Linked DNA regions of Homo sapiens. The protein of the gene in region 1 interacts with the protein of each later gene in a pairwise test. Each region holds a gene or a part of one and is shown in the gene's direction. Other genes may lie near its edges. The genes, in order: ODAD4, GOLGA2, NCAPH2, MEOX2 and CEP70.

What was found.
Region 2: the proteins of ODAD4 (region 1) and GOLGA2 interact in binary tests that used the Homo sapiens proteins (3 or more experiments, as listed by UniProt).
Region 3: the proteins of ODAD4 (region 1) and NCAPH2 interact in a two-hybrid assay, tested with the Homo sapiens proteins (one large-scale study listed by BioGRID and IntAct).
Region 4: the proteins of ODAD4 (region 1) and MEOX2 interact in binary tests that used the Homo sapiens proteins (3 or more experiments, as listed by UniProt).
Region 5: the proteins of ODAD4 (region 1) and CEP70 interact in binary tests that used the Homo sapiens proteins (3 or more experiments, as listed by UniProt).

What each region holds. Positions count from the first base shown.
Region 1 is NC_000017.11:41,958,112-41,961,630, forward strand, and holds part of ODAD4 (outer dynein arm-docking complex subunit 4), read left to right. Parts: intron 1-3,270; coding exon 3,271-3,355; intron 3,356-3,519. UniProt on the Homo sapiens protein: Component of the outer dynein arm-docking complex (ODA-DC) that mediates outer dynein arms (ODA) binding onto the doublet microtubule. Plays an essential role for the assembly of ODA-DC and for the docking of ODA in ciliary axoneme.
Region 2 is NC_000009.12:128,269,489-128,273,007, reverse strand, and holds part of GOLGA2 (golgin subfamily A member 2), read left to right. Parts: intron 1-142; coding exon 143-223; intron 224-3,519. UniProt on the Homo sapiens protein: Peripheral membrane component of the cis-Golgi stack that acts as a membrane skeleton that maintains the structure of the Golgi apparatus, and as a vesicle thether that facilitates vesicle fusion to the Golgi membrane.
Region 3 is NC_000022.11:50,511,215-50,514,733, forward strand, and holds part of NCAPH2 (condensin-2 complex subunit H2), read left to right. Parts: intron 1-3,519. UniProt on the Homo sapiens protein: Regulatory subunit of the condensin-2 complex, a complex that seems to provide chromosomes with an additional level of organization and rigidity and in establishing mitotic chromosome architecture.
Region 4 is NC_000007.14:15,680,170-15,683,688, reverse strand, and holds part of MEOX2 (homeobox protein MOX-2), read left to right. Parts: intron 1-1,708; exon of another isoform or gene 1,709-3,519. UniProt on the Homo sapiens protein: Mesodermal transcription factor that plays a key role in somitogenesis and somitogenesis and limb muscle differentiation. Required during limb development for normal appendicular muscle formation and for the normal regulation of myogenic genes.
Region 5 is NC_000003.12:138,503,756-138,507,274, reverse strand, and holds part of CEP70 (centrosomal protein of 70 kDa), read left to right. Parts: intron 1-1,809; coding exon 1,810-1,980; intron 1,981-3,397; coding exon of another isoform or gene 3,398-3,439; exon of another isoform or gene 3,440-3,519.

The sequences.
Region 1 (3,519 bases):
TATCTCTGCCTGGAATATTCTAAACCTTCCCTTCCCACCTCCTTCACCTGGCTAACTCCCACTCAACCTTTAGGTTTCAGCTTAGATGTCCCCTCTTTGAGGCGGCCTTCTCTGACCCCTCAGTCTGGGTGAGGAGCCCTCACATCAGGTTTCACAGCCTTGATATGTCCCCCATCAAAGTCCACGTTGTGCACTTGTAATTGCCTAGACTTCCATTGCTTAAGGAGGCAGCTGCTAGCCACGTGAGGCTAAAGTTAATTAAAACTAGGCTGGGTGTGGTGGCTCATGCCTGTAATCCCAGCACTTTAGGAGGCCGAGATGGATGGATCACCTGAGGTCAGGAGTTTGAGACCAGCCTGGCCAACATGGTGAAACCCCATCTCTATTAAAAATACAAACAATTAGCCGGGTATGGTGGCACACACCTGTAGTCCCAGCTACTTGGGAGGCTGAGGCAGGAGAATCGCTTGAACCCGGGAGGTGGAGGTTGCATGAGCCAAGATCATGCCATTGCACTCCAGCCTAGGCAACAGAGCGAAACTCCATCTCAAAAAAAAAAAAAAAAAAGTAAATAAAATGTAAAATTCTCAGTCACACTAGCCACATTTCAAGTCATTATAGCCACATGTGAGGCCGGGTGCGGTGGCTCACACCTGTAATCCGAACACTTTGGGAGGCCGAGGCGGGTGGATCACGAGGTCAGGAGATTGAGACCATCCTGGCCAACATTGTCTCTACTAAAAATACAAAAAATTAGCCAGGTGTGATGGCACACTCCTGTAGTCCCAGCTACTCGGGAGGCTGAAGCAGGAGAATTGCTTGAACCTGAGAGATGGAGGTTGCAGTGAGCCAAGATCACGCCACTGCACTCCAGCCTGGGCGACAGAGCGAGACTCCGTCTCAAAAAAAAAAAAAAAGCTACATGTGGCCTATGGGTGCTACATAATACAGATCTAGAATATTCCCATTGTCACAGAAATTTCTGTTGAATAGTGCTGGCCTAGACTGTGTCAGGAGGCAGAGACCAGGGGAGAAACTTGGAGGTGCTCTGGGCTCCCCCACCCCACCCACTCCCAGTGCATCCAGGTGGACGCACAAGCTTAGTAAAGTCTGCACACCAACTTCACAGGTGCACACTCACCCAGGCCTCTTCCTCCTGCTTCTGACCAGACAGCTTCCTTAAGCCCTTCCCACAGCCAAATTCCAGAGCACCACTGGCACGCAGCTGGACCCCAGGAAGTATCTGCTGGAGTGAAGTAAACGGGGCCCCTGTCCTTGGGGAGCTTATGCCATCATTGAAAGAAGCCAGATTGCATAACTTGTGGGCAGCAAAGGGGCATGGCCTCAGGGACCAGCCTGGGGTCTGCAGGCACTGGGCAAAGAGAGCAGGGACCCTGAGAAGTGAAGGCTCAGGACACTCCCAGTGGGAGGAAGACCTCATGCTGTGCTCTGAAGGACAAGGATAGCAGAGCTGGCCAGGCCGAGGAGGGGCAAGTGCACTGAAGACGTGGGAGGTCGGCGCTGAGGGCTGGTGGCCGGCAGAAGAGAGATCCTGGCCTGGGTCCCAGAGCTGGGGGGTTCCCGGTGGCGGGGGATGGTGGTGACAGAGCCCCAGACAGTCAGCACACCAGCCTGGACTTGAAGGGCTGTGGACAGCAGAGAAGTGATCTGATCACCTCTGTTTTTTGGGAGGCAGGTTCATGGTGAGCTGTTTGTGAGGACTGTGGTAAGGCTAACACTGCCCTCTCATGGCGGAGAAATCATACCCAAAAGACCCCAGCAGGCGCAGTCTATCCTCTGCCACCATACGGCCCAGGGAAGCCCAGGCCTAGCATGTTGTCGTCCTCGTCATAAATGCCATGTCCCCAGCTCTGGCTTCCAGGCGAAGAGCACCCACCTCACTGCAGCCCTGCCAGATGTACCATGCGCCACATACTTCCATGTGATCGCCCTGCAGACAGACAGCATGGCCGTTCAGTTCAGGAAATATTCGCCGAGTGTAGATTGGCTCCAGGCTGCCAAGCTCAAATGTGTGCGGCCATTGTCCTAGCCCACAAGAAGATTACAACGAAAGGCCAGACACAGTGGCTCACACCTGTCATCCCAGCACTTTGGGAGGCTGAGGGCAGGAGGATCACTTGGGTCCAAGAGTTCTAGACCAGCCTGGGCATCATAGCAAGACCCTGTCTCTTAAAAAGAAAAAACAAACAAACAAAAAAACAGTTACTCAGGAGGCTGAGGCAGGAGAATGGCGTGAACCCAGGAGGCGGAGCTTGCAGTGAGCTGAGATCGTGCCACTGCACTCCAGCATGCATGATAGAGCGAGACTCTGTCTCAAAAAAAAAAACAAACAAACAAACAAAAAACAAAGCACAAACCCTGGTTCATGACCAGTGCCATAGGGGACTAGGGGAATTCAGAGTGAGAGAGCCCCAGCTGGGAGGCAGAGCTGGAGGCTTTCCAACAAGGAGGATCTGAGGTCACCTTGAAGGCTAGGCAGTAGTTTGAAGGGTTAGGGGCAGAGAGAAGGTACCTGTGACCCTCACTGACTCCTCATGGGACCAGGCCCCCGACCCCTCACCCTCCTGGATTGGCAACTCCAGGTAGGAAGGCTCACAGTGGGAGGGAGGTGGGGGGTGGGCAGACCAACACCACAAGAGAGTGCATCCAGGCCCCGGAGCTGCTCAGTAGACACTACCATGTGTAGCTGGTGTTCTGTCAGTGCCAGCCACGGGCCTGCTATGAGCAAGAAGGCAAGACCTGCCCTCCAGAGGCTCACAGGGGCTCCAGGCCCCTGTGGATCATGCACTCGAGTTGGGGAAACTGCAGACATTCTGGAAGGCCCTTCTGAAGGCAGGCCAGCCCCCAGCCTGTCCCCTTGGTGTGTTTCTGGGTCTTTTCAGTGCTGCCTTGCTGAGTGCTTGCAGGTTTGGATTGTCTTTTTGCATTGACTGAAGCCAAAAGCAGCTTTAGGTAGTTCATCTAAAGGTAGAAATGAGTAGATAGACACAACTCCCAATACATGCCTAAGCCAAAGAGAAATGCATTTGACTGACTCGCAGTCATGTATCTCCCAGACACAATTTGTGTGGATCATTCTGAGTCAGTAAGTGTAGATTAACCTGAGGGTAGGGGTCATTGGAGGGGCCAGAGGGAAACCAAGGGTGGCAGGTTCCCACCAGAGCCCTGCCTTCTGGGATTGATCTGGGTGGGGAAAATTAATGGTGTAGGTGCCAAACACAGGGGCTAAGCTCCCTCTACCATCCACAGGCCTTGGACGATGCCAACAAGGGTATCATCAGAGAACTGAGGAAAACCAACTACGTGGAGAATCTCAAAGAAAAAAGCGAGGGAGGTGAGTTCCTGAAACTCTGAAAAGGCAACTTCAGCATTCTCCCTCTGCTTTCTTTTCCTCTAGTCCGAGACACATGCGACAGCAGCTCCCCAATCTGGGGGCTTGGCACTGCCCATCGTGCATTCTAATTTCAGTGCCACCAGCAGCCCTAGCCTATCTCTGGG
Region 2 (3,519 bases), on another chromosome or scaffold:
GCCATGGTATTGATCTCCTCCACTCTTCTTATTTCATTTCCCTGAACCCACATCTTCCTCCTTCCCTGACTTTCTTGCCTCTCTCTAAGCCACTTCTACCTTTCTCCCCCTGCCCTTGTTTTTCCCTTTTCGCCTCCTGTAGATTCAGGACATTCTGAAGGTGCTGGTGTCCGACCTTAACCGTTCCAATGGGGTAGCGCTCCCCCCATTGGACAAGTGGAAGGTGAGGCAGTGCCGAGACCCCTCTCTGGCTTGCTCTCTCCAGCTGTGCATGCCCCTGAGGCTTCTCTGGTTTGGGGGATACTTTGCCTCTGGCTTATTTTATGTTGCTGCCATTAACCTTCCGCCTGTTTATGTCCGCTTCTTCACCTGCTTGATTGATTGGGTTTTTATTCTTCCCCCAAATCTTTTATCATCTTGGAGAAGGTGAGACATATCTTAAAGTTTAAAAGTTTAAAGGTAATTTGGGAATAACTTTTAGAGCAGGTGTGTGGGATTTGGGGCTTTTTTTTTTCTTCTTTTTTTTTCAGAGACGGAGTCTCACTGCCCAGGCTGGAGTGCAGTGGCACAATCTTGGCTCACTGCAACCTCTGCCTCCTGGGTTCAAGTGTTTCTCCTGCCTCAGCCTCCTGAGTAGCTGGGATTACAGGTGCCTGCCACCATGTCTGGCTCATTTTTGTATTTTTAGTAGAGATGGGGTTTCACCATGTTGGCCAGGCTGGTCTTGAACTCCTGACCTCAAGTGGTCCACCCACCTTGGCCTCCCAAAGTGCTGGGATTACAGGCGTGAGCCACTGCTCCCAGTCTGGGATTCTGGGATTTGGGCTTTTGAATGCCCAGTGTGGGTACTCTCAGACTAGGAGAGATGAAAAAAAAAAAACACAAAAAAACCAACAGACCTTTAGGTTTTACCCTAAAGGCAAAGATCAGTAAACCACCTAGAAGTTAGTGTTTTTTTTTTTTTTTTAAATTAATTCACTTTGGTTTAAGAGTAGGGAACAAAGGGTTAAAAGAAAATGAGTTCACATTATAGTTGGAAGGATTGAAGCTATTTTTTCAGAGGAACTAACTGTAAAAGTTGTGAGGTTAACCAAACAGATGAGTGACCAAGACGTTCTGCCCCTAATCTCTCCAAATGGACATTTAGCCATATTCATTGGGCTCTTGACAACAAAGGCACTTTGATAAATAAACAGTGGATAAAATAGATGAACAAGGTAGGCTGCACACCGAGGGAGGCAGACTCCTCTGAAGGAGGCAAGAGAGAATTTTGGAACATTCCAAATGCTCAGCTCGGGGGGAGGTTGGTTCCAAATGGACTCCAGGCTGGAGAAGGTGGCATTTGAAGCTGGCTTGAAGATTAAAGGTGGGTAACATTAATCCATATGGGGAGTGGGGGAGGCAGGGGGAGCGGTGAGGCCGTGGCCAGAGTGTGAACTCACAGAGCACCTTTCAGGAACACAGGGAGCCTGGTGGGGGGCAGGGCATGGAGGTACACAGGGCTGGGAGACAACCTCCTCTGGCTGTGATTTGGCATTTCTTCCATCTCTAACTCACCTGGGGGACTCCTTCCTGCCAAGCCAGAGGAGCAGGGCACGAATAGAGCCTGATCCTGTTGGAGATGGGTATGGGGAGAGGGACTGAGACAGAGCAGCCTTGGCTGCTGTTAGAGAGTTGTCCAGTCTCATACCTGTTACCCTCCAGTTGATCAGGTCTGTCCAGGTGCTGTGACTCACCTTGCCAGCTCAGAGGAGACGCTGAGTGGTACGGCTGGGGAGCACAGGCTTAGAGGTGACCTGCAGCCAAAAGCATTTGGCTTTTGCTCTGCCAATGGTCCAGTGGATTAGGGGGTCTTCAGCCTGTTTCCTAATGCTCTGAGATTCTGTGCCAGCCCAGGTCCCTCTATTCTGGAAACAAAGGCCTAGATCCCCGTATTTCCTTCTTGCTGTTTTGTTTTTGTTTTTGAGAAAGAGTCTTGCTCTTTCTCCTGGAGTGCAGTGGTGTGATCTTGGCTCACTGCAACCTCCCCCTCCCGGGTTCAAGTGATTTTCATGCCTCAGCCTCCCAAGTAGCTGGGATTACAGATGTTGCACCATCACGCCCGGCCATTTTTTTTGTATTTTTAATAGAGATGGGGTCTTGCCATGTTGCTCAGGCTGGTTTCGAACTCCTGGCCTCAAGTGATTCACCTGCCTTGGCCTCCCAAAGTGCTGAGATTACATGTGTGAGCCACCATGCCCAGCCCCTTGCTGTTTTTATACCTTCTCTATATCCGTAACTGTTTCCAATGTAGGTTTTGTTTTTTTTTAATTTCTCATTTTTATTACCATGTAAGTTTTCTACTCCAGGAATGCAGGCCTGTGATCGTAGTATCCTGAGCGGAGCTGATAACATTTCCAGAAGTAGGGAATAATGGAGAGAGAAAAAATATCTTAATGGGATGGGACATTTTGAGGAGAGTAGGCTTTTTTAAAAACTCCATCTTGGCTACAAGACTTAAAATAATGAAATAACTTGGTTGCTCACAAAATAATCATGCTATGTGTGTCAGAAAGTCCTCAGAAAAATGCTTTTTCAGCCAAGTGCAGTAGCTCATGCCTGTAATCCCAGCACTTTGGGAGACTGAGGAGGGTGGATCACCTGAGGTCAGGAGTTCGAGAGCAGCCTGGCCAACATGGTGAAACCCCATCTCTACTAAAAATACAAAAATTAGCTGGGCGTGGTAGCGTGCACCTATAATCCCAGCTGCTTGGGAGGCTGAAGCAGGAGAATCTCGAACTCAGGAGGCGGAGGTTGCAGTGAGTGGAGATCTCGCCACTACACTCCAGCCTGGGCGACAGAGTGAGACTCCCATCTCAAAAAAAAAAAAAAAAAAAAATTCCCTTCCTCTGAGCATTCTTGTGTCTAATCCTAGAGATCAGTGGGAACCGAAGATGCCAGGAGGGCCCTAAAGCCTAGCAGGGTCCATTGCTAGGAGTGCCAGCCTTCCCTCAAGGCTAATGCCTGGCCAGCAACTGAACCCTTGCTCTGACCTATTAGATTCAGTTGTAGGCATTGTCAAGGAAACACCAGGTTCCATGGTCACAGTAAACTTGCAAAGATGCAAAGGCAGCTTGGCTCATCTTCAGTTCCACCAGCCTCTGCAGCACTTGCTCTAAGGAGGGAAGCAGATTTGGGTTTTCAGAAGCCAGGGCTGAAGGGTCCAGTGAGCGCGCAGTCCTTTCCCTGGAGAGAGGTGTAGTCACTTCTCCCAGACCCAGCTTCCGTGGCCAGGCCCTGGCTCCCTGGTGTTTTTCTCTTGTCCAGCTTAGCTGGTCAGCCAGCTTTTTCCACTGTCTGCCCATCTGGCTTGTCAGATATTAGAAGATCTCTAGAACCAGAGGCTTGGGCGAAGAGTAAGGTCAGAGCCTGGAGAGAGGCTGGGTGGGGCTCTGATCAAGCAGGTAGGTCCAGTTGGGGGCAAGGGAGAGGCTCCACATGACCCCAAGTTCTGAATCCTAGGATTGTCCTCAGGTACTA
Region 3 (3,519 bases), on another chromosome or scaffold:
TGCAGTGGTGCAATCTCAGCTTGCTGCAGCCTCCACCTTCTGGGTTCAAGCAGTTCTCCTGCCTCAGCCTCTTTTTTTTTTTTTTTTTTTTTTGAGACGGAGTCTCACTCTGTCGCCCAGGCTGGAGTGCAGTGGTGCAATCTCGGCTCACTGCAAGCTCCACCTCCTGGGTTCACACCATTCTCCTGCCTCAGCCTCCCGAGTAGCTGGGACTACTGGCACCCGCCACCACGCCCGGCTAATTTTTTGTATTTTTTTAGTAGAGACGGGGTTTCACCGTGTTAGCCAGGATGGTCTCGATCTCCTGACCTCATGATCCACCCGCCTCGGCCTCCCAAAGTGCTGGGATTACAGGCCTGAGCCACCGCGTCCGATCCTGCCTCAGCCTCTTGAGTAGCCGGGATTACAGGCGCCTGCCACCACGCCTGGCTAATTTTTTTTTTTTTCTTGAGACAGAGTCTTGCCCTGTGGCCCAAGTTGGAGTGCAGTGGCACAATCTCGGCTCACTGCAAGCTCCATCTCCTGGGTTCGCGCCATTCTCCTACTTCAGCCTCCTCAGTAGCTGGGATTACAGGCGCCCGCCACCACGCCTGGCTAATTTTTTTGTATTTTTCAGTAGAGACAGGGTTTCACCATGTTAGCCAGGATGGTCTTGGTCTCCTGACCTCGTGATCCACCCGCCTCGGCCTCCCAAAATGCTGGGATTACAGGTGTGAGCCACCGTGCCTGGCCCCAGCTAATTTTTGTATTTTTAGTAGAGATGGGGTTTCACCATGTTGGCCAGGCTGGTCTTGAACTCTTGACCTCGTGATCCGCCCACCTCATCCTTTGAAAGTGCTGGGATTGCAGGTGTGAGCCACTGCGACTGGCCACAAGCCATTCTTCAACTCATTTACCTGTTTGTGGCCTGTCTCCACCCTAGAATGTGAATTCTGCCAGGGCAGGGACCATACTTATGCCCTCTTTTGTCTGCTTAGTAGAGTGCCTGGCACATAGGTGTGGACGTTAAAGTGTTTGTTAAATGCACATGTGATCTGATGACCAAACTTCTCTGCTCTCATGCATAGTTGGCTGAGAAAATACGGGGAACTGTGCTGGGCAGAGCTCCTGTGGATTCAGGTTTTCACATCAAGCAGGGTCCATGAGGACACCTGTTCACTTGGTAAATCTCCTTCCTGGCTTGGTCAGCTCCCTTCCTGCTTTCTTATGTCTGCTCTTCCAAACCTCTGCAGCTTGAAGTCCTGATTTCCTGGTTTCTAGTATTATCTTTTTCCTTCTGTCATTTTCCACACACTACCATGATGTTCTTTTTCTTTTTTTTGTCCTTTGTTTTTTTTTTTTTGTTTTTTTTTTTTAGATAGGTTCTTGCCCTGTTGCCCAGGCTAGAGTGCAGTGGTGCAATCATGGCTCACTGCAGCCTCGATCTCCCAGGCTCAAGTGATCCTCCCATCTCCCAAGTAGCTGGGACTGCAGGCATGTGCCACCGCACCTGGCTAATTTTTTGTATTTTTGGTAGAGATGGGGTGTCACTGTGTTGCCCAGGCTGTTCTCAAACTCCCAAGCTCAAGTGATCCACCTGCCTTGGCCTCCCAGAGTGCTGGGATTATAGGTGTGAGCCATTGCACTGGCCAGAATGTTCTTCTAGTACTGTCATGATCCTACTCTCTTTTATCCATTTATTTATTCATTGTTGTTAGTTGTGAATTGTGTGCCAAGAACCATGTTAAACTTTGAAAAAATAGTGCCAAGCAAAGCAAATGATAATCCCCACTATGGTAGGACTTCCTCTGTCATGGGAAGACGGGTCCAAGAGAGTAACCGCATGGGGGTGTAATAAATATGCATTTGGTGTTTACTTGTGTTAAGCACCTGTTTTATGTGCTTTACACATATGAATGCAGAGTCCTCACAAAAACCTTGTTAGTAGAGGCGTTAGAGATGTACTCTGAATGATAGTGGTTCCTGGCAGATCAGAATCCAGCCTCCACCCCTGCGTGTGACTTTGTGTAGTCAGAAACTGATGGCCAGGCGAGGTGGCTAACGCCTGTGATCCCAGCACTTTGGGGGGCCAAGGTGGCTCACGCCTGTGATCCCAGCAGTTTGGGGGGCCAAGGTGGCTCACGCCTGTGATCCCAGCACTTTGGGGAGCCGAGGTGGCTCACGCCTGTGATCCCAGCACTTTGGGGGGCCGAGGTGGCTCACGCCTGTGATCCCAGCACTTAGGGAGGCCGAGGTGGCTCACGCCTGTGATCCCAGCACTTAGGGAGGCCGAGGTGGCTTACGCCTGTAATGCTAGCACTTTGGGAGGCCGAGGCAGGAGGATCATTTGAGGTCAGGAGTTCGAGATGAGTCTGACCAGCATGGTGAAAACCTGTCTCTGCTAAAAGTACAAAAAAAATTAGCCAGGTATGGTGGTGCATGCCTGTAGTCCCAGTTACTTGGGAGGCTGAGGCAGGAAAATCACTTGAACCTGGGAGGCAGGGGTTGCAGTGAGCCGAGATTGTGCCACTGCACTCCAGCCTGGACAACAGAGCGAGAGACTGTCTCAAAAACAAAAACCAAAACCAACCAACCAACCGAAAAAATCACCAGAAACTTATAAGGGATTTGAAAGAAAATGTATGGTCCTGTGGAGAGTTTGGGGGGCTTAGTTTGTTTGAGATGAAAGCAGTTACTTATTTATGGTGAGCTAAAGAATGTTTAGCTCCAGGTGGAGGAAACCTGGTGTTGGAAGGATTGGAGTTTTTACAAAAATTAGCCGGGCGCCTATAATCCCAGCTACTCAGGAAGCTTAGGCAGGGAGAATTACTTGAACCCAGGAGGCGGAGGTTGCAGTGAGCTGAGATTGCGCCCCTGCATTCCAGCTTGGGTGACAGAGTGAGACTCCGTCTCAAACAAAACAAAACAAAACAAAACAGAAGGTTCCAAGTTGGGACCATAGAGCAGAGGAGGGCAGGCAGCTGGAGAGGGAGGCTGGCCAGCATGGAGGCCTCCCTCTGGCTCCGTTTAGGATTTTGGGTTTTTCCTGCCACTGTTAGGAAAAACCCAAAATCCTAAACAGAGGCACTGAGCAGAGCGTGGAGAGTGGACGGGAGGGGAGTGAAGGGCAGGAGGAGCCCTGTCAGTGCAGAGGTGAAAGGGGAGGTGGTGGGGCCAGAATGGGGGTGACTGTGGAGAGGAACCCCTGGGTTTCTGGGCAGGTGGGTTGGGGGCTATTTGGAGTTCAGTGTGGATGCATTCAGTATGAATCTTGGTGAAGCCATCCAAGCGATGTTTGAAGAAGGCAGCTGAACATGTGGGTTTGGGCTCAGATGGCAGGTCCAACCTGGGGAGGTGAGAAGACAAGTGAAGCCCAGTAGTGTCTTGGGAGTGGGCAAGCCAGCCAGGCTGAGGGTCACTGGAGAGAAGGGCCACTTCTGCAGCTCAGCTTCCAGGCCGCCATCTCCTCCATGTTCCCTTCTTTCTGGACCAGCTCTTCAGGTCCTGAACACCCCCGAGGTCCTTACACTCCGTAGACGA
Region 4 (3,519 bases), on another chromosome or scaffold:
TTTTATTTGCCAATTTCAGCTGAAGGTATATTTGTCAGATATTGAGATAGATTTAAATTAAAGATATCTTTCTCGTGTAACAATTGCATTAGGTGTTCCATAAATTATCTTCAAAGATATTTTATTTCATAGACATCTTGATCTAGCACAAACTAAAACAATATTGAAAATGATTATGATCCTGGTATGCTATTAATACGTATATCTCTCATTGCTTATAGCACATTTTAGTATTTCAATATTTCTAAAATATAAAATTGAAGTGATTTCGGAACTCCTGAAATTTAAAATTGTATTAGATAAAAATGTCATCCTATATAGTGAGATCATTTGTATTTTGTTAGGTAGTTTATAATTACTTTGCATTTATGGTTGAGAGAAAATTCAGTACATAAATCCAGGGTAAAGTCAGGACCAAAATTCTGTATCCCTGCATCTAATACTTAGACTGTATGTGTATGTGCTAATTCTAATTACCGTGTTAAATTCTAATAGAATTTTAAGCACCAGAAAGTATTGAAAAACAGCTTAAATATTTATAAACCTTACAATTTTATTCATAGTAACGATTTAAAACTATAATACGTAAGCTTCTCTAGCATATATTTTATGCACTTTCCCTCCACAAATGCACATGGACACACACATATGCAAACTCTAGCAGCTTCATGTTTTGGAAGCAAATATTTATGGACTTTAGGCTTCCTTTATGTAAGTTTATTGACAATTGAAAATAACCAAATTTAATAGAAAAACACACCATTATATTTTATATGTGTTAAACATTTTTGTAACTTTGAACCTGCTACGCTTTCCAGCATTATTAGCAAAGCCAACATCTGCCACGTCTTCAAAGGGACTCTTAAAAATCAAAACTTTACAACTGCTGAAAAAAATCACTACAAAGCAGGTGATTCTGAAAAATGTCTATAAATAGTGTGAATTGCTTGGCTTCAATTACATTTGGTTGCTCTTTGAGCAATCTAGTAGTAGGAATAAACTGCCCAGTTTTAGTTAAAATAACTAAAATTAATTCATTGATCGAACTTTAGCTTTTGTGCATGGTTATACAGTGTACATATCTAGATATTTTCTATTCAAATTTATGATACATATTTTATAAAAAATAGAAATTACATCAAAAAAGAAAAGAGCGATTTGGGGAGGTAGACTTTACTAGGTTTTGAATCATATTAGATTCTTGTAAAATTACAAATATTTTATTTATAGCTACTATGTCATAAAACCTTTGCTGTCAAATTATGTCTGTCTATATGCTTGACTATGCAGAATGACTAGCAAATATTACATTTAATAAGTTGGAACTTAAACTCAGAGTAATACCTTATCAACCTCATTCAGTATGATATTGTAATATTTCCAAGATATTTCAATCATTGTGTTTTCTGAAAGGAATAAATTAGTGTTATTATTCATTTCTGTGTTACTGGATTGTGGCTTTTCAGCATTTGCTTTAGAATTTAAAAAATAATATACTGGATCTTGAAGATTAAAGTGAAGTATTGAACAAATCAAATGGAGTACAAAAAAAAACTTCCATTCTTTATCTTGGACTGGTAGACTAATTTTAGGTGTGAACATTTAAAAATGGTAATCTGACATAAAAAATTCTAAGTATCATTGACCTACATGAGGGCTCTAAAATGTGATCTAAAATAATCACACTCAAGTTAAAAGCAACAATTCCTTTAGAATTAAAATGCTTTATTGTTGAACATTAGCAATGAATGGAAGGAAGAATGCAAATAAAAGTAGGAATAGTTTCCAATTCTGTGTAAATTTCTTCATTTATAGTTCATTTTAAAAGAAAAATCATAAATGCAAGGCATGGTATTGCACAAACTTTCACCGGGCTTAGAAATCCAGAACTTAGTATTTAAAGTTTTAATCTTTGTTTATGGTAATTATCAATAGAAACCTTTACAATGACATCTTATAAGCTGATCTTTACTAATAAACTGAAAAAACAGTACTTCAGTCATTACCCCATTCTCCCTCTGTGTTTCAAAACATAGACCGTTCATTATAACTCTGGAATTTAAGTTGTAATATTTATAATAAAATCTAAACATCCTAAGAACTTAATTTTAAGCAAAAATGAAATATCAGAAAATGTCAATCCTTTCTCTTAGATTCTGAGAAATTTGGGAGGTGAATTCCATATGTAATGAAATAATTACATTTTTTTTTGCACTTAAGAAATGTAAATCTATAGATGAATTAATAGCTGAATTATGTAAAACATCACCATATATAAGCCCACTACATGTACTTAGCCTGATAATGCTGCCTTGCTTGCGAAATTTTATTCATTTAGTGTTTTTATAATGGCAGCTTGACACACACAACCTAATATGAAGGTTTTTTAGATTTTAATTTCAAATGAGAAAAACCAATATAATACAGCAATATATTTTAGTTTTGAACTGTATTCACCTCAGGAATTTATTTCTAAATTTTCAGAGCAAATCTCTTTTCCAAGCACTGCTATGAGGGCTGCAAATATCTTTGAGCGATAAATACTAAGGATGCAGAAATATTAGAAAATAAATTACAGGTAGGAATTTCTTAAATAATATCTGTTGAATTAATAGTTGTGGATTATTTATCTCACCCAAATTTTCTTTATTTTTCTCACTTTTTTTTTTGATAAATGAAACATTTTGTGCAGGAAGATATATAAGCATTTCCCCCCTTGATTGTAATAATAAAAAGAGAAGGCTTAATTCTCAACTGGCCAGTTACATTGTATTTCCTGGCTTATAGTATTGGTAAATGATTTCAGTGGTTAAAATCAAAAGCAAAAAAATAAAATAAAACACAAACTAAGGCCAAAGTCCACAGATTAAAAATTGAAGTAGATGTGATTTATTTCCTATTTAGCATATTTAAGAAACAAGACACATTTTGTAGTCACAATTTGTTTCTACATATCATGTGCTTTAGATGTTAATATGGTTTACTGACATACATGTTTTGTAAAGATTGTAAATATAATGAGGCACTAACATTTTGCCTACTTTCCTTAGGATGCTCTCATGACTATTTCTTTTACTAGCGTGTTGAACTGAACCCCCAAGTAGAAAAGGAGTAACGGTGTAAAGTAAAGTTAGTTGCAAAACTCTCTACATTACTCCTAAATCACAGTCATCAGTGAGATTCAAAATCCCATTGGAGAAAACCTCGCAGAATATTTTATGTGTTTTAATGTAGTAAAACTTAGAATGGTCAAGAACATATAGGGCTCAGCCTACAATTTGCGTTAGAGGCAGAATTAATCTAAATCTGATGCCCATTTCTCTAACAGTTCTTCCCGTTTTACTTACATTATAAAAATATTGAATTTTTTAAAGAATGTTGTACTAGATAGTATTTTATGATACAAAATAATCAATAATGTATCTATTGATCCATTTGTGCTCATCTCAGATGTTGTTTTTATGTTTCAGAATAAGTATTTTCATTTAAAATCTCTTGACATTATTTATTACCAAATTA
Region 5 (3,519 bases), on another chromosome or scaffold:
GTCTTCAATAAAGTGTTGTGTATTTTTAAATTTAGCTCTTGCATATTTCTTGTTAGGAAATACCTTGTTATTTCCTAGGTATTTTATAACTTTTATTGCTATTGTAAATGGGAACCAAGCACCTTTCTGAAAACTGTTTTGTTTTAGACTTTCTTGTACCAGTATATAACTGGATTTCATTTTGTTTCTGAGACTCAATTTGAGAGGCTTTGTCCTTTAAAAGGGGAATTCAAGCCGGGTATGGTGGCTCATGCCTGTAATCTTAACACTTTGGGTGACCGAGGCAGGAGGATTGCTAGAGGGCAGGAGTTTGAGACCAGCCTGGGCAATATAGTGAGACCACATCTCTAGAAAAAAAAAAATTTAATTAGCTGGGCATGGTGGCTTGTGCCTGTAGTCCTAGCACTTGAGAGGTTGACATGGGAAGATCACTTGAGCCCAGGAATTCAACGCTGCAGTGAGCTCCGTTCACACCACTGCACTCCATCTTAGGCTGCAGAGTGAGACTCTGTCAAATAAATATATAAAACAAATATACATACATCAATTTGAAGTGAAATATTGAATTATACTAATTTGGACTTAAAAAGCTTCTAAATAAACATCTGAAGTAATAAACATCTTAAGTCATATTACCAGGAGGCCTATTAGTTATATCTTGAAGTATGACCAGGGACAAAGATTCAAGAGCAAAATGCTATCTTTATATTGTGAAACTTTTTATTAAATAGGCTGAACTTGATGGTGGTAATAGGAAATGGCTTTATTCTTCTCTCTTTAAACATGCTTTTTGAGGTCTCCCTTTTTTTCCTCGGATGATATGTAAGGTAGAACCCATCACTTATGGGGAGAGGGTTATAGTCAAATAGTATACTATCTTAATATATTAAGATACCTAAAATTCAATCCAGGCATCAATGATATTATTTTTGGAGACAGGGTCTTGCTCTGTTGCCCAGGCTGAAGTGCATTATCATAGCTCACTGCAGCCTTGAATTCCTGGGCTCAAGTGATCCTCCTGCCTCAACCTCCCAAAGTGCTGGGATTACAGGCATGAGCCACCACACTCAGCCTGGGGATTGCTGTTAATTTCCTTAAATAGTCTGATAATGTTCTTGTGAGTTTGTAGGAGAATATGCCTACTTTTAAAAGATGCATGCTTTATTATTTGAGGGTGAAGAGTTTCTTCAAATGGTTCACCTAAAAATATAGATAGTGAGCAAATATGGCAAAATACTAACAATTTTTGAACCTAGGTAGTGTTTGTAATAGTTAATTTTGTTTCAACTTTACTGCGGCATAGGATGCCCGATATTTGGTTAAACATTATTCTGGATGTGTCTGGGAAGGTGCTTCTGGATGAGATTGACATCCGAATCAGTAGACTTTAGTAAATCAGACTGCCTTTCCTAATGGGGTGGGCCTCATCCAATGATTCAAAGCCCTGAGTAGAACAAAAGGCTGAATAAGAGGGAGCTCCTCCTCCCTGACTGCTTTCAAGATGGGACACTGGTTTTTTTCTTGCCTTCAGACTCAAACTGAAACATTAGCACTTGCAGGGGTCTCAGTCTGCCTGCATTTGGACTGCAAATACCCATTACCTTTTCTGGGTCTTCGCTTACTCACTGCAGATCTTGGGACTTGTCAGTCTTCATAATTGCATGAGCCAATTCCTTATGATAATTTTCTTTGTATATTTAATGAAATATGTGTATATAATATATATAGACATAAAGCACTCCTTTAAAATATATAACTTTGTAGGCATAGGATAAATATTTTGACTATATACACTATGTTTTTTTAAAGGTGCTGTGTAGCATCAATTCAATTATCCACAATCCAAGAGCTCCAGTAATAATTTATAAACAGACCAAAGGGGGAGTCCAAAATTTTAATAAAGATCTTGTTCAAGATTGTGGATTTGAGCATCTTGTTCCTGTAATAGAAATGTGGGCAGATCAACTGACATCCTTAAAGGTAAGGGGTTGACTATGATTATATGCTTTGAACATCTATTGGACTCTATGTGCTTTATTAATAGGACTTAATTCAGGGCTAAAAATTAAATAGGGTTTAATTTTTTTGTTTGTGTGTTAACTCTAAAGCTAAAAAAGCTTATTATCTAAAACCGAAATCTTCCTACTTACATATCTATTTTAGGTACTGTCTATTTGATGTTGTCATTACTGTAAGCTTTACCTCCTCTAAGATTCTACCAAACAAGAAATTTTGGGGTTAGTTTCCTTATTGAAAATCTATAGTGGATCCACTTTGTACTTCTAGGCCCTTCCCTGTTCTACCTTCATCTGCCTCCTTTTCATATCTCCATGCTGCGATTTTCCTGGCCCTTATCCCTCTTCAGATATAATGTCTTATCCTTCATTTTATTATAATTGGGGATATTTTCTCTCTCTTCACACTTTATTTTCTGTCTCTCAGAACTGAGCTTATCTCCATTTCTGCTTATTCTCTAGAACAGATAGTAAGCTAGCAGCCAACGCTACCCTTCCCTATCCTATCTCTTCATGGAAGACCACATTTTATTTATAGAGTTATTGTGTATTTATTGCATAGCTTCAGGTTTTTTCAGTTTTTGTTAACTAGTTTGCTGAAAGGTAAATAGTTGAAATCAGTAGTATTTAACTTCTTTGCCCTTTACACTTTAGATTTATTAGTAACTAATATAATACATAGCATATGCCTGTTAATGAAAATGTGATTCAATAACAGTGTTTGCAACATAAGTCTTATTACATGAAGTACAAATGATGCAGAAGATATCTGTTAAGAATGTATAAGCTCCATGAAGACAGTGTTTTTATTTGTTCTGATATGTCCCCAAGATCCTCCTGATGAATGAGTGCTCAATTAATATTTGTTAAAAGGAATGAAGCAGAATATTATATTCCAAGACAACAAAATTGGGGGTGGTGATGTTAATTTTTTTTAAATTTCGACTTCCCTTTTTATATAGGGCTCAGACAGAGCTATACAATACATAAACATTTTGATTGAGTGACAGTGCTAGATTAATATACTTACTTTATAGACCGGAGTTCCTCCAGTCTGTATCTCAGAAGAGTGTAAAATAATTAGTAATAGTGTAAATCATGGTATTTCCTCAATCACTGCCTGTCAGAGGGTTCTCCCAGTAGGAGGAAACAGTGCTGACTCCACCTTTCTTCATCTCAGAAGGGATGGACTAGAAAAAGCCCTAGCCTTCCTAGAAGAAAAGACTAGAAGAGGAAGAAGACAAAGGGAAGAATCACACTAATGGATAGTTATTGATCGTTTATCATGCTAAGCCATTATGGGATGAACACAAGATTCAGACTAATTAGACAAAATATACTAAAAAATATGAAACAAAATGTAATCATTTATATCGTTAAAGGAAATGAGTGACATAAAAATAGATTACCGGTTGAAGTTCTGAGTGAATGATGCAGATAACTTGTGCTCTAGAGTCTGGAGGAGAAAGAGAACACTCTGATTGTAGCCCCCAAGAAGGGCTTT